Linked DNA regions of Homo sapiens: region 1 is linked to region 2. Evidence: fine-mapped expression QTL. A gene starts in region 2. The other region holds a variant in brackets. All regions are shown on one strand. Distances are from middle to middle. Region 1 has its middle 31 kb from the start of SLN. Region 2 holds the start of SLN (sarcolipin).

The links. PIP is the estimated chance that this variant, and not a neighbour inherited with it, causes the effect. A credible set is the group of variants that fine-mapping cannot tell apart.
Region 1: its variant is the best candidate, but not a certain one, in a credible set for the expression of SLN in cerebellum (GTEx, PIP 0.58).

Annotation. Positions count from the first base shown.
Region 1 is chr11:107,741,164-107,745,563 of GRCh38, forward strand. No RefSeq gene overlaps it. Among named protein-coding and RNA genes, the nearest start is that of SLN, 31 kb to the left of the region's middle. RefSeq lists enhancers at 1-463, 37-166, 464-964. The variant T/C (reference allele first, on the strand shown) is at 2,202.
Region 2 is chr11:107,709,419-107,713,818 of GRCh38, forward strand. SLN (sarcolipin) reads right to left here and starts at 2,638. Exons shown (of 2, transcript NM_003063.3): 1 at 2,545-2,638.

The sequences.
Region 1 (4,400 bases), 32 kb after region 2:
ATATGCTCTTATTTAGCTGAGTAGCTCTTCCGTATTTCAGTGGGTTTATTGCAGTGCTCTGTGGTGGGGAGGGAAGAGAGATGACTTCTTTACCAGGTCCATTCCCCTGCCTTAGGGGAGGTCCCTCCTAACACTGGCACCATGCCAACATTGCCTTCGTTAGGTGTTCCAGGTCACAGGGCTCCTTCAGGCAGAGGCTTTGCCTGCCAGACAGGCCTCACCCTTCCCAGACTGGCACTTTTGAGGGAGGCATACCCCATTCCTGCACCTGCCCAGGAACCCGCTTCTTACTCTTCTCAGTGTTCTGAGTGTGCAGGTTCCTCTCCCACTTAATCACTGGCCAGATCTCAGCCTGCCACTTCTGAGCTATGTGCTGCAACCCAGGGGTATTGGAATCTGGCCTGCAGCTTCATCCTCTGCGTTGGGCATTGGTTGTGCTGGGGGAGCTGGAGTGCTCTCAGGCTGTGAGGAAAGCACTCTGCCTGGGCAGTGGAGGCCGTGCTGTGTACCTGCTCTTGTAGGAGTGGCCAGGCAGGGGCCTTGGGAGGGGCTGGTGGATAGAGGAGCATGCAGAACAGACATGCCCCAGTCCCACAGGAAAGATGGCCCCACTCTCTCCTGGCCCAGCAGCCAGCCAAGGTTAGAGCTACTCAGAGGAAGACAGAGAATCCTGTGGGATGGGTGCCTGTGGCCACATTTTGCTGCAGCTTCTCCATGTGCAAAACCTTCTAGGCTCTGCACAGCCTGGAGCACTGTTTCTGCCTACTCTCCAGGCAGATTCCCTTGACAATTCAAACATCTGTAGGAGTCATGGGACCTCTTGTAGCTAATATCTGAGAGGTCTGTGGTGAGAGTGGGTTACCCCGCCATCACTTCACTCACCCCTTCCTTAGGAGCTGTTCAGGGCCGGGAACCAGTCCCAGTGCTCTGCAAACCTGTGCAGGGTTCCCAGCTTCCTCCCTCTTCAGTCTCAGTGTCTGCCTTACCTCTCTATTACTCTGTGTTTTCTCTCCAAAGATCTGTCCTAAGGATGTTGGTTTATTCAATATTTTGGTCTCTCTCATTGGGAGATGCTCCTTGACTGTATCTATTGGCCATCTTGTCACCTCCATCCACTTTTTTTTTTTAAGCTGGAGTTTCACTCTTGTCGCCCAGGCTGGAGTGCAGTGGCACAATCTCCAGTCACCACAACCTCCGCCTCCTGGGTTCAAGCGATTCTTCAGCCTCAGCCTCCCAAGTAGCTGAGATTACAGGTGCCTGCCACCACACCTGGCTAATTTTTGTATTTTTAGTACACACAGGGTTTCACCGTGTTGGCCAGGCTGGTCTCAAACTCCTGACCTCAGGTGATCCACCTGCCTTGGCCTCCCAAAATGCTGGGATTACAGGCATGAGCCACGGTGCCCAACCCATCCAATATTTTTAAATGATAAAATATATTCTCAATTCCCCTTCTATCCTCTTTCTCTCTTTAAAGTTATAAATCTTATGTTCGTCCCTGCAGCCACTCACCTGGAGAAGAAGGCTTGTTTAAAATGCCAAATTGGCCAGTAGCAGTGGCTCACGCCTGTAATTCCAGCACTTTGGGAGGCTGAGGTGGGTGGATCACTTGAAGCCAGGAGTTTGAGACCAGCCTGGCCAACATGGTGAAACCCCATCTCTACTAAAAATACAAAAATTAGCCAGGCATGGTGGCAGGTGCCTGTAATCCCAGCTACTAGAAAGGCTGAGGCATGAGAATTGCTTGATCTTGGGAGGTGGAGGTTACAGTGAGCCAAGATCATGCCACTGCACTACAGCCTCTGCAACAGAGTGAAACCCTGTCTCAAAAATAAAATAAAATGCCAAGTTGACTTAGATAAGTAAGCAGAACACAGGAAAGAAGTTCATTTCCATTCTATCATTCCATAGGAATCAGCCAAAAACTTGCTGAAAGTGGAAATTCAGTTTTGCCATAAAAGGACCCCTTTAATGATTTATCTTTCACCTCTATGTAACTCTGTATTTCTTTCTACTGATTTCTCCATAAAAGCTCTGCATAATGGTGTGGGTTGATTTATGAGACTCCCTTCAGCCTTTATTCCATTTTTACTTTTTCTTACTTTGTTATTTCCCCTGGTGGATGCCAGTGTTAGTATTTGACCCATACAAGGGGTGTTCAGCCAAAGACAGTCCTCAGTCAGACTGTGGCCTGAGACAGA[T/C]GGTGAGGCCAGTTGGTGCTTTGGGGCAGTCAGATTACATTTCCAAGGCGTTCTCGTGTGACAGCTGTGTGCCTTTGATCAAAACATTGAGAAACAAACCCTCACGTCTCCCTTAGCACAAAAACAGCCAGGACCCTGTTTTCCTGGATCAAAGAGAGGCATGTCAGATACTCTATAGGACTTCATATGCATTAAATACCACATTCTCAGAAGAGCTGCAGAGGCCCAGGATGACAGGGGTCACTACAGAAAGAGGACCTCTGCAGGAGGTGAGGAGGGGCTCCACCAGGGCGGACTCTCTTTGTATCTGTTGTACCCTCAGCACCTACAACAGTACCTGGAGCAATGTAGAAGCTCAATAAATATTTTTTGAATTAATTATTAAATAAGTGAGCTGCTTCTATCTGGCAAGTCCCTTACTTTACTCAGATTGACACATCATTCCTGCTCATTTTTGAAAATCCAGCTCATCTCTTTCTCAGAGTGCTTTCTTTGACCTGTCTAAACACTTCTCTATATATAAAGCTGTACTTTCAAATGGATTTCTGTTGCTTGTTCTTATAATACAGTATTGCAGTTACTTGATTGCATGTCCCTCCTCCCTTCAAGACCTTTAATTCCTTCATAGCTAAGGACAATTCTTATTCATCTCTGTACTCATGCTGCCTAGCATAGTTCCTGTATATTTACTCCTTCATCCAACGGGATTTGAGCACCCTGCTTTATTCCCAGCACTGAAACAGGCTCTGGGGATACAGCAGCGAACAAGAAATGAGCCCTCTCTATTCCCCAAGCTTAAATTTTATAAGGATTGCAGACAATTAATACGAGTAAGTGCAATGGTGGAGGTTATGAGGACACCATGGAAGCACATAGGAAGGACACCACTGCATAAAATTTGATGATCATTAAAAGCCTCCTAGAGGATGCTTCCCAGGAAAAAAACAAAGAATATCTGAAGGATAAATAGAATTGAGCCAGTAAAGTGGGGGAGTGTTCCAAGAATAGAAGAAAGGAAGACAGAAGGGAGAAACAGATGAAAGGAAAGCAGGGAAGAATGGGAGAAGTGAAGAAGAGAGGAAGGCAGGGATATTGCATTTTCTTATTTGCCTTGTAATATTTCTTCCAGTAGGTGGCCTTACCAAGAGCCCCATAACTGCTAGAGGCCACCTGCTACCCCATCTTACTTGGAGGTTCTGTTTTTACCCCTAGTCACAGAATCACAGGCTATTGTAGAGCTGAAAGGGGCTGTTAATACCTAGTCCCATCCCTCTTATTCTACACATATGAACGATGAAGCCCACAGAGGTTAGTAATAACAGTATTTTGCTTTTATCTGTTATCTTGCAAAGCATTTTTACCCCTATCCAGCGTGCATCCAACAGCCCTGTGAAGCAGCGTTATTCTTTTCTACATATCAGGAAACTGGGGTTTAAATGGAATTAGTGGTAGAGCTGGAAGCCAGGTCTCTACCAAGGGCACACCATGAGGAGCGGAGCCAGCAGGAGATGACTCCTCATCCAAACTCCTTCCAGAAGGCAAGAAGAGCTCTCTGACACCTGATGGGGACTGGCCATGCTAATTATTCACAGCATGTCCCAATTAAAAGAACACTTGTGCTGAATGCCTTATTTGCCAATAGCCTGGAGATCACTAGAATGACTGGAGTTGACTGGTCTTGCCTTCATTTGGTGTCAGATGGTAGGTCAGTCTTTTTACAAATAAAAAGAGTGTTCATTTTGGACTATTTAAAAATGTGAAATGTCTGTAAAAGCAGGACTCTATAAACCAAGTTAAGAGATAAGCCATACAATAACAAATGTTGGCAAGGATGAGGAGAAAAGGGAATTCTCATACACTCTTGGTGGGAATGTAAAATGAGCACAACCACTATGAAAAACAGTTTGGAGGTTCCTCAAAAAACTAAAAATAGAGCTACCATATAATCCAGCAATCCCACTCCTAGGTTTATACCCAAAAGACAGGAAATCAGTATATCAGAGAGATATCTGCACTCCCATATTTATTGCAGCACTGTTCACAGTAGCCAAGATTTCGAAGCAACCTAAGTGTCCATCAACAGATGAGTAGATAAAGAAAATGTGGTACTATATATAATGGAGTACTATTCAGCTACAAAAAAGGATGAGATCCTGTCATATCCAACAACTGAGATGGAACTGGAGGTCATTATGTTAA
Region 2 (4,400 bases):
GGTATTTTTAAACTATCTAGCATGACTGAATTATTAATTGTAATTACTGTATTGATTATATTATCAATGGACCAAATTGTTAATTGCATAAATGCCAACTGAATGATCATTTTTCATATTGTGTAATTGGCATAACATACAGGTTCAGCCAGGCATGGCAGTCGGTACCTGTAGTCCTAGCTAATTGGGAAGCTGAGGTGGGAGGATCCCTTGAGCCTAGGAGTTTAAGACCAGCTTAGGCAACATAATGAGACCCTGTCTCAAAAAAAAATACAAGTTCAAATCAGATGGTGCCAACCAGTAGATATATAGCCAAATGATGACAGATTTATATTTCATCTCCCTTTTAATTATTATCCATCTTTTAGACCTCAGCATGAAGGAAATAGTAAATTGCCAATGAAAACCATTACAAATGGCTGGGCGTGGTGGCTCATGCCTCTAATCCCAGCCCTTTGGGAGGCTGGAGTGGGAGGATCACTTGAGCCTAGGAGTTCAAGACCAGCCTGGATAACACAGCAAGACCCTGTCTCTCCAAGAAAATAAAAAGGGGAAAAAATAGAAAATCTTTACAAAGATTTGCATGGAGGAGAAAGTAAACAGAATAAAATGAATGGATCAAGGAAAAAGGATTTATGAGAATGTACAAAAGAGCAGAGGAGAACAGAACGGTAATGAGTCTTGCCAAGGTGCCTGGAGGCAAAGGAATGAGAAACGAAGACAGACTCTTTCTTATAAACTTATCAATGAAATAAAACCATAGTCCAAATGTCCATCTATTTGGGTAAGTTCTCAAGAAATGCAGAGATAAGCAGAAAATATGAAGCCTGGCTTATAATGGTCAAAACAATTCAAGGAGAGCAAAACAACGGTCCCACCAAATCTGCCTATTAAATTAAGCTGTTAAGTCATGGGAATCATGGATAGTGATCCAACAGGATATACTCAGAAAATGAGAAAAATACTATTGAAAGCTGTTCCACAGCTCTGTTTGTGTTACCTTCGCAACAACTCAGGCAAGTGTTACTGCAGTTTTTATCTTTCTCAAGATTACAGCTGAGAAACTGACTTTTAGAGAGAGGAGATTAAGATGTTTGTGTAATGACAGATAACAAGTTAGAGGCAAAGCTAGAATTAGCAGACTGGAACTAGTTACTAGAATTCCTAGGAGTTATGACACAAGTGAATTGTCACTGCAATTAACTGGCCTGGCTAAACAAAGTTAGCATAAATTTTCAACCACTTTGGAAAACAATTTAGCTTTCTTAGAATTAATGTTGAAAATGTTCATTCTCTAATATCTGGCATTTCACTTCTACCTTAAGACAGTCAAGGACGTGCGTGCCAGGTTACATAAATAAAGAGTTCACAGCAATATTATCACAATAACTCCAAACTGGAAACAACTCAAATGTTTATCAACAGCAGAATGGATGATAAATTGTGGTATAGTTATACATTTGAATTTCATAAAGCAAAGAAAATATATGAACTATAGCTACACAGAAAATGGGTAGATCTCACAAATATAATTGTTGGGTGAAAGAAGAATTTACAAAAGAAACAGAGAATATGACTCCATTTATATGATGTCAAAAATAGGGAGGTTAATCATATTGTTTAGGCATGCAGACATAGATGGTCAAATTATAAAGAATAACAGGGACAAGAGGATCCCAACATCTTGGGGCAGAATGGGGGTTGATCAAGAATGGGCTTCTGGGTGCTGGCAATGATCTGTTTCTTGACCTGGATGATAATTATAGAAGTGTTGCCTTTCAGTTATTGTTTAAACTGTGTATGTTTATGCACTCTTAACTTTTTTTTTTTCAGTCATTTCTGAATTAGCAGGCTACCCATCACACTTCTTTCTTTCTTGGGATTTACCTCTTACTACTTCTTGCACTTTAATGGTGACCTTGAATATTTGTTGTTTTATGTGATTTTAGATGAATAAAACATGAAGAGTTAAGGTGAGAATTTCTAGTGAATTCAATTCAATCAACACATATGCTAACTGTAAGGTGTGGTGTGAACATTCCTTTCACACACATTTATACACTTTAGGAAGAATGAACCAGTTAGGCAGAAATTCAGATCAGCCAAGTTCCATTTTTCTGCTTTTAACCAATAAAGACACTTTGGGTTTCATTTTAAACATTCCCTGAAGTCAAGGTCATGCCATATGATCCAGTGATTGCAAATGGATGAACTAAAACCCAAAAAGCTCTGAATAAATTGTGCAGGAAGTTTGACATTGGCTTTCTTTGAATGGAGACTTAGAGAAGATAGAAAAAAGACCATCTTCCATAATACAAGAAAGAAAAAAAATTTTTTTTTACTAGGAAGGGAGAAAATGCATACCCTTAGGAGAAAAAAAAAGGAAAACAGAAAGCAATAGTACTCACTTTATATCTTAAGGCATGCTGTATCCAAGGGGCATTGCCTATTTCATTAAGAAATGCAAACATTCCTCTGCCTTTCTCATTTGCAGCTTGTACACACACACACACCGTATGCTAAGCATAAAAATCCTGCAGTTACCTGAAGAGGATCAAAGACACACCCTGGCTATGGCAGGTTTCTCCTCGCTGTCTCCAACTTGAGCTCCAACTCCTTCTCCCCTCCCAGGCTGTCTGGACTCCTGGACTCTGGGCAGCGCCTAAAGTAGTCCGTGGAAGCTGGCAATCACTGTGATGTCACTGATGAAACATCTCAAAGGAACACCCTCCGAAGGTTCGAGGCTATTTGTGTTCGGGGGACATGGAAATATGTTGACTAAGACTTTGTTCCTTTGGCTGCCAATTTGCCACCACCAGGATTTAAAAACCTTCTGTTTCCAGTTGACTTTTAGTGCAATTGATGTGGGTTTTAAATGTGTCTTTTACATCTTCATGAATAACTTTAACATGTCTTTAAAACATCATAAACCAAGAATGATAGACTAATTTTAACCAATCGATGCTGCATTTGACTGCTCTCCCTAGTCAGCCTGTGAGGTGTAAAAATGTGACTTCATTTTACCACCCATATCTTTAGTTATTTGAAATGTGAAGAGTTTGCTGCCTTACACCCACACATATGCACACCCATACACACACACACACACTCCAGAATTCAATAGGCATCTTTAGCTCTTTCAAAACTGACTTTAGTCCAAGCAGTGAAAGCTATCCCCTCCGTCACCTGCTCCACGTAACTTTCCAGCTAAGCTGTGCATTGCAAGTTTACACGTGGATCTACAGTTTCATCTGAAACAGCCGAGGAAGTCATGGTTTGTATATCTCTGGCAATAAATTAATAGAGCAGTAAACTCACACAGTTCAACTCAGTTATTTGGATAGATTGGGAGTGGAAGGAGAACTGGGTAAAATTAGTGAAAAATGTGAATTATAGAATATATCTGAAAGAAAGAAAAGTATTATATAACTTTCTAATATGAACACTAACTAAAATTAGACTAAGATGAGTTTGTAACCAATGTATCACATGTTTGGAGCCCCTGAAGTGTTAAATTAGACTTGAAAGCAGATCAATTAAGTACTTTAAACATGACCCTAGCAATTGTGTTTGCTCAGCAGATCCTTTCTTTATAGATAATAGAGGAAATCTCCCCCTCTGAATTCCCAATTAGGGTCAATCAAAATAATGCATTCCCAAAAGGCATAAACAAACAAAATTCTCTATGCAGTTATGCTCATAGTCAAACCTTTCCCTCCATTCCTCATACCCCAGAGACATTACCAAAACAAGACTTTCCATTTCATTTCCTCATTTTAACATAAGCTTAGCAACGGGTAATCTTAATACAACATTCTGTCACCACTTGTCTTGTGAAAAGAGCGCTTGCTGAAGTGACAGAGAGTGTATAATAATTATAGTGCAACCGAACATTGGCAGTTATCTGTTGCCATCTGGCAAACTCCTTGAATGTAATCAGAGTTCTGTCTTCTGCCTCCAAGCTCTCACTAGATTGTTTCCCAGGCTGGGAATGTTTTTCTAGTTACCAAGCCACACCTGTCCCTTTTTGTAACCACTCAAAATTATTTTTTGTCAAATTAAAAAAGTTATATATTTATTGTAGGACATGTGAAAATATATTAAAGTATTTAAAACTTTTAAATTACTTTTAATCTCACCACCCAAAGGGGAAAAAAACAAAACTTTACTTTACTTTTTTTTTCTTTTGAGATGGAGTTTTGCTCTTGTCACCCAGGCTGGAGTGCAGTGGCGTGATCTCAGCTCACTGCAACCTCCGCCTCCCGGGTTCGAGCGATTCTCCTGCCTCAGCCTCCTGGGTAGCTGGGATTACAGGCATGCACCACTATGCCTGGCTAATTTTTGTATTTTTAGTAGAGATGGGGCTTCACCATGTTGGCCAGGCTGGCCTTGAGCTTCTG